Homo sapiens: one gene and its partners. The protein of the gene in region 3 interacts with the protein of the main gene of each other region in a pairwise test. Each region holds a gene or a part of one and is shown on either strand. Other genes may lie near its edges.

Evidence for each region.
Region 1: the proteins of FAM163A (region 3) and GAD2 interact in binary tests that used the Homo sapiens proteins (3 or more experiments, as listed by UniProt).
Region 2: the proteins of FAM163A (region 3) and alpha-crystallin A2 chain interact in binary tests that used the Homo sapiens proteins (3 or more experiments, as listed by UniProt).

What each region holds. Positions count from the first base shown.
Region 1 is NC_000010.11:26,223,129-26,226,779, reverse strand, and holds part of GAD2 (glutamate decarboxylase 2), read right to left. Parts: intron 2,894-3,651; coding exon 2,803-2,893; intron 2,242-2,802; coding exon 2,129-2,241; intron 1-2,128. UniProt on the Homo sapiens protein: Catalyzes the production of GABA.
Region 2 is NC_000021.9:6,561,547-6,565,091, forward strand, and holds the end of alpha-crystallin A2 chain, read left to right. Parts: intron 1-373; exon of another isoform or gene 374-469; coding exon of another isoform or gene 470-547; intron 548-654; coding exon 655-777; intron 778-2,208; coding exon 2,209-2,418; 3' UTR 2,419-2,943; downstream 2,944-3,545. UniProt on the Homo sapiens protein: Contributes to the transparency and refractive index of the lens. In its oxidized form (absence of intramolecular disulfide bond), acts as a chaperone, preventing aggregation of various proteins under a wide range of stress conditions.
Region 3 is NC_000001.11:179,746,284-179,749,934, reverse strand, and holds part of FAM163A (protein FAM163A), read right to left. Parts: intron 1-3,651.

The DNA of each region.
Region 1 (3,651 bases), on a different chromosome or scaffold from region 3:
TGAAGCATGAAGGCTTTGGATATTATTGATGGAGCTATGACACAGTATGTTTTAAGTCACAGACCTAACTCTTCACATTGAGTCCCAGGGAATGAGACTTTTAGATCCCAGATGCATAAGATGTGTGGCTTTCTCTATCCCCACCCCTTAAATTGTAAGACCCTTTACTGCAGGAGCAAGGCTGGTTGCTCCCGGGAATAGCATCCATAGCCAGTAAGGATGTGATGAGCCACTTCTCGTCTGTGATGTCTTGTAGAAAGTAGAGCAGAAACAGGTTGCAATGACCTTTTCTGCTGTCTCCTCCCAACTTTGCAATGTCTGCACTGCACTGTAGTGTGACATCTATGGCTTGCATCTTGGCGTAAGAGCAAATGGGTCTTTAGGCTCCAAGGAAGCCTATAATTCCCATGCTCAAGCTGAAGTCTTCTCCATGTGAAAATCCCCCATTATCAGTGAGGGTGGAGGGTAAGCTCTAAGCCTAGCAGAACTGCCTAAGAGAATTATTTCTCTGGGTGTATGTTTTCTGGGGCATGTAGGTTTTTCAGACCAGCCAGGTAAATTAGGCCTAGCTGTTAGTCAAATTAGTCAAATTTTCAGGGTCAACAGGTACATCTGTCCTCTCCCTACTCCCGGGGACCATTAAAACTTATGCACGGGAATAAATTCAGCATAAAATAAATGCAAATAAAAGAAAAAAAAATAGAGCCCAGCATGTTCTTGATTCATCTCAGGGACAGATCAATCCTATAACCAACCACACAAGGGTGGGAAGAAGAAAGGTAGAAATGATGTGGATCTCTGTACCCCACCTCATTCCTCATGAACAATGTTTTCAAAGCATCAGGCAATGATGACCAAGCTCCCTCAACAGGGATGGCTTTCCAAAGGAAAACTAAGTACTAAGTGCCATAAAAAATAAAGGCTAGCTTAAAATTCATCACAGCTGGTGTTCAATGACTTTTTAAAAGGCTAATTTTCCCTTCCATTTAACTAACACCTTTTCCTTCAGCACCTGAAAAATTGTGCTATATATTTAAACACATAAAATAGCTGACCAGAGCTTGCAGGCAAACATGCTTAACTTAAGCCCTGGCCTTGGGGTCACTCTTGCTTATCATTTCTTCTTTTCACTTTTTCTTTTCTCCCCTATCCCCGCCTCATCATTTGCTTGTCTTTGTAGATTTGCTGAAGAGAGAGCACAACCACTTGGCCTTTGCTCTGTCTGACACAACGACAGGTGTTGCTCTGGCCTCTCTCTCAGGTGGGTCCTGTCTCAGTGGACTAATGACATCCGCTCCTGCCACTGATTAGCTGATGGTCTGCACATCGGGTTTCTTTTCCATGGGTCAGTGACTCTCTTTGCATTGCCTTCCTAACTTCTATTTCTTTTCTGCATCAAACCAAGGTCACACACAGAACTGTAAACCAAGGGCACAGCTTTTTGTTTCAGGTTGATTCTCTTGGCTGGAAGAGGTCTAAGTAATGGAGCTTAGAATTCAATGGCTGGTGATAAAAAGGCAGGATGGAAAAGACTGAATGGCATGATAAAGAAGAGAAGGGATGAGAAATCTCTTGAAGAAATCGTCACCCTCTATTTTTGCTCTAAGAAATTCTCTCCCAAAGCGTTCTCTGTCCTCCTTGAAATTAGTGTAAATCCACTTTGGTGCTTGTTATTTCAAAGACAGAGTGGTCCATATGCTCTACTGAGTAGATATACCTTGCTATGCACCCTTGAACAGCAAATGCTTTATTAAATGAGGCTACCCATTTCCTTTCACTAATTCTAGGAAGAGCATCAGAGAGTGAATTTCCTGATTAGGAATCTTGATTCCTTTGTTCCACATTATCCGTACATCCTGTTTGTAGGGTCACAGTAGAAGCACTGGGTAAGTACCATCTCTGATTATGCTCACTTTGCACACAAATAACTGATGTTCAAGCATGGGTTACTTAGCTTGGAGGCATGTTCAATGGTCATGTGCACTTAATCACAGTCATTCTTTTGATCAACACACAGTCTATTTAACCTAAGCAGAGGCATAGGCTAGATTTTTAATCTTCCCTAGGTTTACAACAAGGCATTGCATATTAGAAGAAAAAACACAAAGAAAGTTGAAATATCATGTACCGGGAGAAAATATCCCATCGCCAGAGCCCCCTGGCCAGCCAATGATTTCTCTCATTTTCTTTAGTGTGACATATTCCAAAAGCACAAATACTGGAGCAATTTCATAGGTGAACCTGAAATGTAGTAATGGCCACATTTTACCTCTGTAACTCAGATAAATAATTTACAATCATTACAATAGCTACAGAACTATTTCCTTTTTCAAAACATACATTTACAAGTGTTATGATTATAACATTAAGCAGAGAGAAAATTATTTCAAAAAGGCCTTCCAAAATGTTTATTTTTTCTATATCCCTACAGTCAAGAGCTCCAACTACTGACATAATGCACGAGGGGAATTTATTGTATTGAATAAATAAAAAATATTGCAGAGTAACATGATTTAAAATATAATATCTGGTCCCATTTGTCTTTGACATTATGCACAATAATAAATCAAACGTGAGAAAAAAGTCTCTTTTGTATTTTAAAAATTTTGTAGAGTTTGATTACATGGAAGATGTATCAGGACTACTTTCTGTTACATTAAAGTGAACACTCACACTTCAGAAGTTTGTATCACTATTTTAGTGGCTACTTAATAAAAAACAGATTTTCACATAAGATGTAAAGACTATGGAATGTCACTAATAATTATCCTAAATTACATAAAAACACATTTGGCTACTTACATGTTAGTATTTGCTGTTGATGTCAGCCAGTCTGCTGCTAATCCAACCATATCCAAACCAGTAGAAAGTTGATTGAAGTATCTAGGATGCCCTGAATAAAATGGAATACCAGAATCAGGATTGCCTCCAGTGAAAATAAATGCCTCTCAAACACATGATTTCTCTAGCTAAAGGACCTTGAAAGATCTGTCAGTAACAGGAAATCCATAAGTAGAAATCCAACATGTACACACGTGTGTATGCACAAGAACACACACACACACACACATGCACATACACACACACACACACCATAAAAGCGTTTCCTCTAACCACGAAGACTACTTTAGGTTTTGATATTTCTTAAAACATACCCTACAAATCTTCCTTTAATCGGACCCTATAAATATAACAAATATGGTTTGCAATCTGCATGAGTCTCTTTTCTATTTTCAATATTTTCGCAAGCTAAAATGCTACTGCAACCCACAGCCATTCAGACAGGTAACTTCTCCTTTATACTCATGCTGCTAGAAGTCCTTTTTTGTAGTCGTTCTGAGAATCGGTCATACCATGACATCCGCCAGGCATGCCAACATTCATAATAATATCAGTGACAAATGGCTGATGATTACAAAAGACAGGGCAAAAATGAGAAAATAGGACACTCTGCTGAATGATTTGCCCTGGATTCAAAAGGTGATGATTGTCTAAAGATGGCATGGACAAAGCTAATTCTTGTCAATTCTTCTTTGTTAATTATAAACAACAGCGCTCCTCCATAGTTGTGATTTAAAATAAGGCCACATACAGTCAACATCACTGTTTTATCAACAAGATACAGAAAGATATACTCAATCGACTGATTAG
Region 2 (3,545 bases), on a different chromosome or scaffold from region 3:
GCAGGTTCTGCTGTTCTGGAGGGCCTGAGTCCCACCCAGCACCTCATAAACAGGGTCCTCCCCAGGGCTGCTGCAGTAGGCATCAATGCCAGGGTGCAAAATGCCTCAGGGAGCCAAGGCTGAGCCAGGGGAGTGAGAAGGAGCATGTGGAAGTGCGTTTTGGAGAGGCAGCTGCGCAGGCTGTCAGCAGGCTCCGGCCGCTTCTATAGACAGCATGACACCAAGGGCAGTGACCTCATTCCACAGGCTGAGTCCAGCCAGCCAGCCAAGCATCACCAGCCAGACGATTGACCCTAACGGACCAACCAACCCGTAACGACCCCTCCTACCATAACCAGTAGCCAGCCAGCCCATAACCAGCCAACTTATCTATAACCAGCCACCTGACCATAGCCAAACAACCAGCCGGCCCACCAGTAGCATTCAGCCCCTCAGCTGGCCCTGAGGGTTTGGAGACAGGTCGAGGGTCATGCCTGTCTGTCCAGGAGACAGTCACAGGCCCCCGAAAGCTCTGCCCCACTTGGTGTGTGGGAGAAGAGGCCGGCAGGTGACCGAAGCATCTCTGTTCTGATAACCGGGACCCGCCCTGTCTCTGCCAACCCCAGCAGGGACGGCACCCTCTGGGCAGCTCCACATGGCACGTTTGGATTTCAGGTTCGATCCGACCGGGACAAGTTCGTCATCTTCCTCGATGTGAAGCACTTCTCCCCGGAGGACCTCACCGTGAAGGTGCAGGACGACTTTGTGGAGATCCACGGAAAGCACAACGAGCGCCAGGTGAGCCCAGGCACTGAGAGGTGGGAGAGGGGGGCGAGTTGGGCGCGAGGACAAGGGGGTCACGGCGGGCACGACCGGGCCTGCACACCTGCACCATGCCTTCAACCCTGGGAGAGGGACGCTCTCCAGGGGACCCCGAATCAGGCCTGGCTTTTCCCCAAGGGAGGGGCCGTGCCCACCTGAGCACAGCCAGCCCCTCCCGGTGACAGAGGTCACCATTCCCGAGCTAATGTGGCTCAGGGATCCAGGTTAGGGTCCCTTCCCGGGCTGCACCCAGCCGTCGCCAGCTCCATCCCTGTCACCTGGATGCCAGGGTGGTCTTAGAAAGAACCCCAGGAAGTGGGAGTGCCCCGGGTGGCCGCCTCCTAGCCAGTGTACATCTTCACATGAACCCTACCTGAGGAAGCCAGTCCCCGACGGCATAGCTGCATCCGCTTGGAATGCTTTACAGGCATTGACACCTTCGCCTCACAGCAGCACTTTGGAACCAGTGTCCTCATTATTCCAGGGCACGGCTGGGGAACAAGGGGGTCCTCAGCCTGCTGGGTCCCACAGCTAGTACCGGGCAGGTGGACGGGAGCTTCTCCCCACAGTCACCCTGATGCCCCGCTCTTGCTCGGCTGGAGGCCTCGGATCTCCGTGGTGTTGAGGGAGCCGGGGCACTGGAGCCCTGGTGACCTGCATCTCCTGGCGGAGCCGGGAAGAGCTCATGGACTGTCACAGATGGACAGTGCCCCGCGGGGGCTGGAGAGCAGAGTGGGGCTGGAAGGTGGAACTCTTAGCCAAAGTCTTGGTTTCTTTTGGCCAGGGTCCTCTTTCAATGGCTGGAGAAGGTGGTGCTGGGGGGTGAACGCTGACCTCCTCATGTGCTGCCCCTCCCTCGCCTGGGCCCGGTAAAGCCCCCACGTAGCCCCAGCCAGCCTGGAACATGCTTCCTGAGCTCCCAGCTCTTGGTCTTTGCACCCAGTGGAGGAGGAGGTCAGCCCAGGGAGCTGAGTCTGCGGTTTAGGGCGTCCAGGGGACGTGGAAGCATGTGGGTCGTCTGGCCACATTAGGTAGGGCTGCAGAGACCTGGGCTAGAGCAGTCCTGCGGGGTCTGGAAGGGGAAGACTGGCTGAGGTGCGGGGCCTGGTCTGGAATGATCCTGCGATTTTGGAGTGAAGCCATGGAGCGGGAAGAGACAACCCCCCGCGGGGAATAGCCCGGCAAGTGGCCACGAGGCCAGGCTGAGGTCCAGAGAAGCAGGGGCATGAATCCATAAATCCCAGGGGGCCTGGCCATGGGATGTGCTGGCTGCACCCGGCCCCTGTGAGAGCCCCCGCAGGCTGGCCCCCTTCTGCAGTCAGTGGGGCTGGGGCAGCTTCTCTGGCATGGGGCGAGGCAGCCGCCTGCACAGTGGCCCCCCTGACTGTGCGCCCCCACCCTCTCCAGGACGACCACGGCTACATTTCCCGTGAGTTCCACCGCCGCTACCGCCTGCCGTCCAACGTGGACCAGTCGGCCCTCTCTTGCTCCCTGTCTGCCGATGGCATGCTGACCTTCTGTGGCCCCAAGATCCAGACTGGCCTGGATGCCACCCACGCCGAGCGAGCCATCCCCGTGTCGCGGGAGGAGAAGCCCACCTCGGCTCCCTCGTCCTAAGCAGGCATTGCCTCGGCTGGCTCCCCTGCAGCCCTGGCCCATCATGGGGGGAGCACCCTGAGGGCGGGGTGTCTGTCTTCCTTTGCTTCCCTTTTTTCCTTTCCACCTTCTCACATGGAATGAGGGTTTGAGAGAGCAGCCAGGAGAGCTTAGGGTCTCAGGGTGTCCCAGACCCCGACACCGGCCAGTGGCGGAAGTGACCGCACCTCACACTCCTTTAGATAGCAGCCTGGCTCCCCTGGGGTGCAGGCGCCTCAACTCTGCTGAGGGTCCAGAAGGAGGGGGTGACCTCCGGCCAGGTGCCTCCTGACACACCTGCAGCCTCCCTCCGCGGCGGGCCCTGCCCACACCTCCTGGGGCGCGTGAGGCCCGTGGGGCCGGGGCTTCTGTGCACCTGGGCTCTCGCGGCCTCTTCTCTCAGACCGTCTTCCTCCAACCCCTCTATGTAGTGCCGCTCTTGGGGACATGGGTCGCCCATGAGAGCGCAGCCCGCGGCAATCAATAAACAGCAGGTGATACAAGCAACCCGCCGTCTGCTGGTGCTGTCTCCATCAGGGGCGCGAGGGGCAGGAGGGCGGCGCCGGGAGGGAGGACAGCGGGGTCTCCTGCTCGCGTTGGACCCGGTGGCCTCGGAACGATGGGGTCGCCTGCGTCCCTTCCTTCTCCTGAGCTCAAGCGCCTCCCTCCACACTGGGCTGGAAGGAGAGGTTTTGGGGGCAGAGCCTCTGATGGGAAAGGGACTGGGGAGCGGTTCCGAGAGCTGGGGGCGGGGAGGGACCTGGAAGGGGCTGCAGGGAATGGAGGGAGGCCGGGCTCCTTTCTCTGTCCGCGCCGGCACCGGGGCGGGACGCCAGCCCTGGCCTCCTTCTGCGGGGCCGTCCGGTTCTCTCGGGGTCTGCTGGGTCGTCCTGTTCTCTCGGGGGTCCTGCTGCCTTCGGGGCTGGGCTTTAAGGGCACTCGTGCTTTTGAGGAGCTGGAACTCGGCAGCTTCCCCTGGGCAACCCATCATGGCCCCGAGCTGGAGGCGGAAGCTCGCTCTGTCCCCTCCCGGGACCAGACACTGGGCGGCCATGCCAGACCCCGCCACGGGGAGGGAGACTCGGCCTGGGGGGCCCTGGCTGCCTGCT
Region 3 (3,651 bases):
TTTTCTTAACACTTGGCACCTGTGCTCTTCGATTTAACTCAAAATTGTATTTTCAGTTATTTTTATTTTTATTTTTTTGACAGAGTTTCACTCTGTTGCCCAGGCTGGAGCGCAGTGGCATGATCTCGGCTCACTGCAACCTCTACCTCCCAGGTTCAAGCGATTCTCCTGCCTCAGCCTCCCAAGTAGCTGGGATTACAGGCACATGCCACCATGCCTGGCTAATTTTTTGTATATTTAGTAGAGGTGGGGTTTCAGTTTCACCATGTTGGCCAGACTGGTCTCGAACTCCTGACCTCAAGCAATCCGCCTGCCTTGGCCTCCCAAAGTACTGGGATTATAGGCGTAGGCCACCGCGCCTGGCCTATTTTTAGTTATTTTAATATATGAATAATTCATGGTATTCTCCAAAAAGCCCCACAGTTTCCATGGGTTTTATGACATAAACAAGTTTTTGAGACCCACTGGCCAAATCCAGAGAAATATTTTTTAGTCCTCTGATTTGTCTTCTTGTTGGTGTCTGCTACTGCTTATCATGCTGTTTATTCATTATAGCCACCATTATTTATTGAGCACACACTAGGTTTTCCCACAGCCCCTTATCCCTGCTTTTATGATGGTTACCACCTTCTTCTGTGATCTCTTCCATGTACTGTGAGTCCCTGGGGAGTATAGAGACCATGCTTTTCCTTTTTTCTCTCTCTCCATCATCAGCCCTCCACTTGGTCCAGGCACAAAGATCATGTTTTTGGAATGCAAGAGTAGATGAATGAGAGAATAAACAAACAAATAAAATGCTGAGGCAGAACTCGAATCCTCATCACCAGCACTCTTACTCCAGTGTTCTGCTACCTTCCCACTGAAATAGTCACAGTGACACAGTAGCTGGATATTTAAATACAACAGAAATGTTGATTTCACATGCCTGTTGTCAATACCTGTTGATTTTACCACACACATGAAAAATCATAGTTGACTATTTTATGGGGATATAAACGTTTCATGTTACAAGTAATTAAAAATGACACGTATTATGTCTGTGGCAGAAGTTAGGTAAATGACGAATTACTAAGGCTTTTTAAAACACTCTGTATTCTACTGTAACCCTGTGTCTTTGCCCAACCTGTTGTCTGAGTTCCACCCTTTCTCCTGAGCTTATGTATCAAAATCACTACTTTACCTTCAAGGCCCAGTTCAAAAATCACCTTCTCCAAGACGGACTTAATAATTTATCAGAGTTCCTTGGGCCAGTCTCTGCTTCACTTTAGCCCTGTGCACCTGACAGCATGTCACTTGCTCCTCTACTTAGTGTTTGCTTCTTTAGTCTGCAGAGTACTGCTGGTGATGTGAATGTTCCTCTCCCGCACTGCCCGTGGGCAACCTGAACCTGGGGGCCATGCCTTGCTCATCCTTCTGTGTTCTCAGGGCTTTGACAACAGACATTTTCTGAATTTGATGTGGTTAAACTGGTCCTCCACTACTTGTATACTATGTAAACATCTTTATTTTTGGCCTAAGGTGATTTTTTTTAAAAACTAATAGGGCTCCCTGACTTTACCTCTCCTTGCTGGGTTCTGGCAGCCCTACCTGAGAGCCCAACCCAGCTTCTTGCTCCCACCACTGTGGGCAACAGCAGCACAAGAAAAAGCAGCTGCCTTGTGCGTTCCAGAATTTATTTGGGGAAAATTAGAGCTGTTTCCTTTTGAAGTGGAAACGGAGTCAGAGGTGAGCCCTGGCTAATGAGAGGGAGGAGGTTTGCAATGAGAGAGGCTCTCAGGTCTCAGGCTGTTTTTTCCAAACAACAGACAGACTCCCAGCACAGACTTGGGGCTTAGTGGCCACCTTGCTGACCTTTCTCCTTGGGTGCAGACACAGGGCCTCACAAGCTCATCTTCACAGCCTTCCACACCACTGGTGTCTGGACCAAAGCAATGAGAAGCTGCCCTCCTCCTAGTCCTCTTCCTCCTCCCCCTCCCCCTCCCCCTCCTCCCCCTTTCCCTAGGAACATCACATGCACAGTCTACTCAGCCCCAGCCCTAATGCACACACAGAAACAGAAATAAGAGAAATGGAAATCCAAACCCAGAACACTGACTGCTTTGTTTCTGAACTGTGCCTTGTACAAATCTATCCATACTGCAGAAATTTCAACTGATCCATCAAAGCATGCAATGCTCAGCCACATACTGTTATAACCCAAAACCAGGTCTGTAAGCACCCATGTGATGCAGTTGCGCCTGTGCTGCAGCTTACTGCGTAGAGAATGGAAAAGTCAGTGAAGGGAGAGCAGAAAGACATGCTGCTTGATACCAAAGAGCCTGGGCTCTCACATATACCCGAGATAAAGAGATTCAATGAAATAGTGTAGGCTTAGCAGAGTGACTGAAACATAGAAAGCTCTCAATGAAGGCTTTCCACCTAATGGTGTTGGAGGACCCATCTTTTGTGGCTGGAAGCAAGTCCTTCTTCCATTGTTTCTGCTATTCAACAGCCTGTCCCATCACCCACCCCAAAAAGAAAGGCAGTACCTAATATCTCCCCCATCCCCTTTGTGTATCCATCGGCTTCCAGGCTGAGGGATCAGCAAAAATGGGTGCTTGGAAGTAGGGGGAACTGAGCCGGGCATCTGTGCTGATAAGAAATGCTCAAAGGGGCATGTAGGACACACTGATTGATGCAGTGACAACTGCGCCAATAATCTTCCTTCTTTCTCTGGGGCAATACAGCCCTAGACTCTAGGATAATGTCAAACCTTTTTTTTTTTTTTCCAAGCATCTCTCTCTTCACCTTTTTGAGGTCCAAATGCAACACCAGAAATAGCCCTCCTACGTATCTTTTGCCCTTTCTGATGTCCAGTCACAGTGTTCCTCTTGCTCCTTTACCCAATCCTATCCAGTCGCTGACACTTTATCCTGTACAAGGGAACATTAGGGCAATAGAGAAAGGGGTGGTTTCTATTTCTGCAGATTGTTTTCAAGGCTGGATGATCATAACTTGCCTACCCAGCTCAGAGAGCCTGCTGTCCAAAGACACCTCTCCCCAGCTTTCCAAGTACAACTCTGTATATTTCAAAGGAATACTGGATGGCCCAGATACTATGGGCACTGTGCAGTCTCACAGCCCTTTGGCTTTTAATCCAAAGGGAACCTCTCAAGCAACCAAAAGGGGGTGGGGTACGTCACCCCACAATGTTAAGCTGGAAAAGTGTTTGAGGGAACATACCAGGCACAGGACGGACAAAGAGAATTTTAAAATAGTTAACGTATTCCCATGGTTCAGAATTCAAAAGGTACAAAAGGGTTTACAGGCCACTTTTCCTGGAGGTAACAGGTATGATTAGGTTTTGTGTCTATAGTTATACACAGACAAGCAAATACCCTAAGACTCTCCTTCCTCTTGTATAACACGAGCAGCAGCATATTATAAACACTCCAGGCATGTTGTTTTTTCCACTTAGCCATATATCTTGGAAATCATTCCATATCAGTTATATAGTAAACTTACTAATTCTTTTTTCCATGAATGAATAGGACGCTATTTGACTCTCTGGAAGTACCATAAGACACTTAACAAGTCCCCCTTTGATAAGCATGTAAGTTGTTCTTTCACAGTTCGAACAGTGCTATAATGTACATATATCTTTGTGCCCAT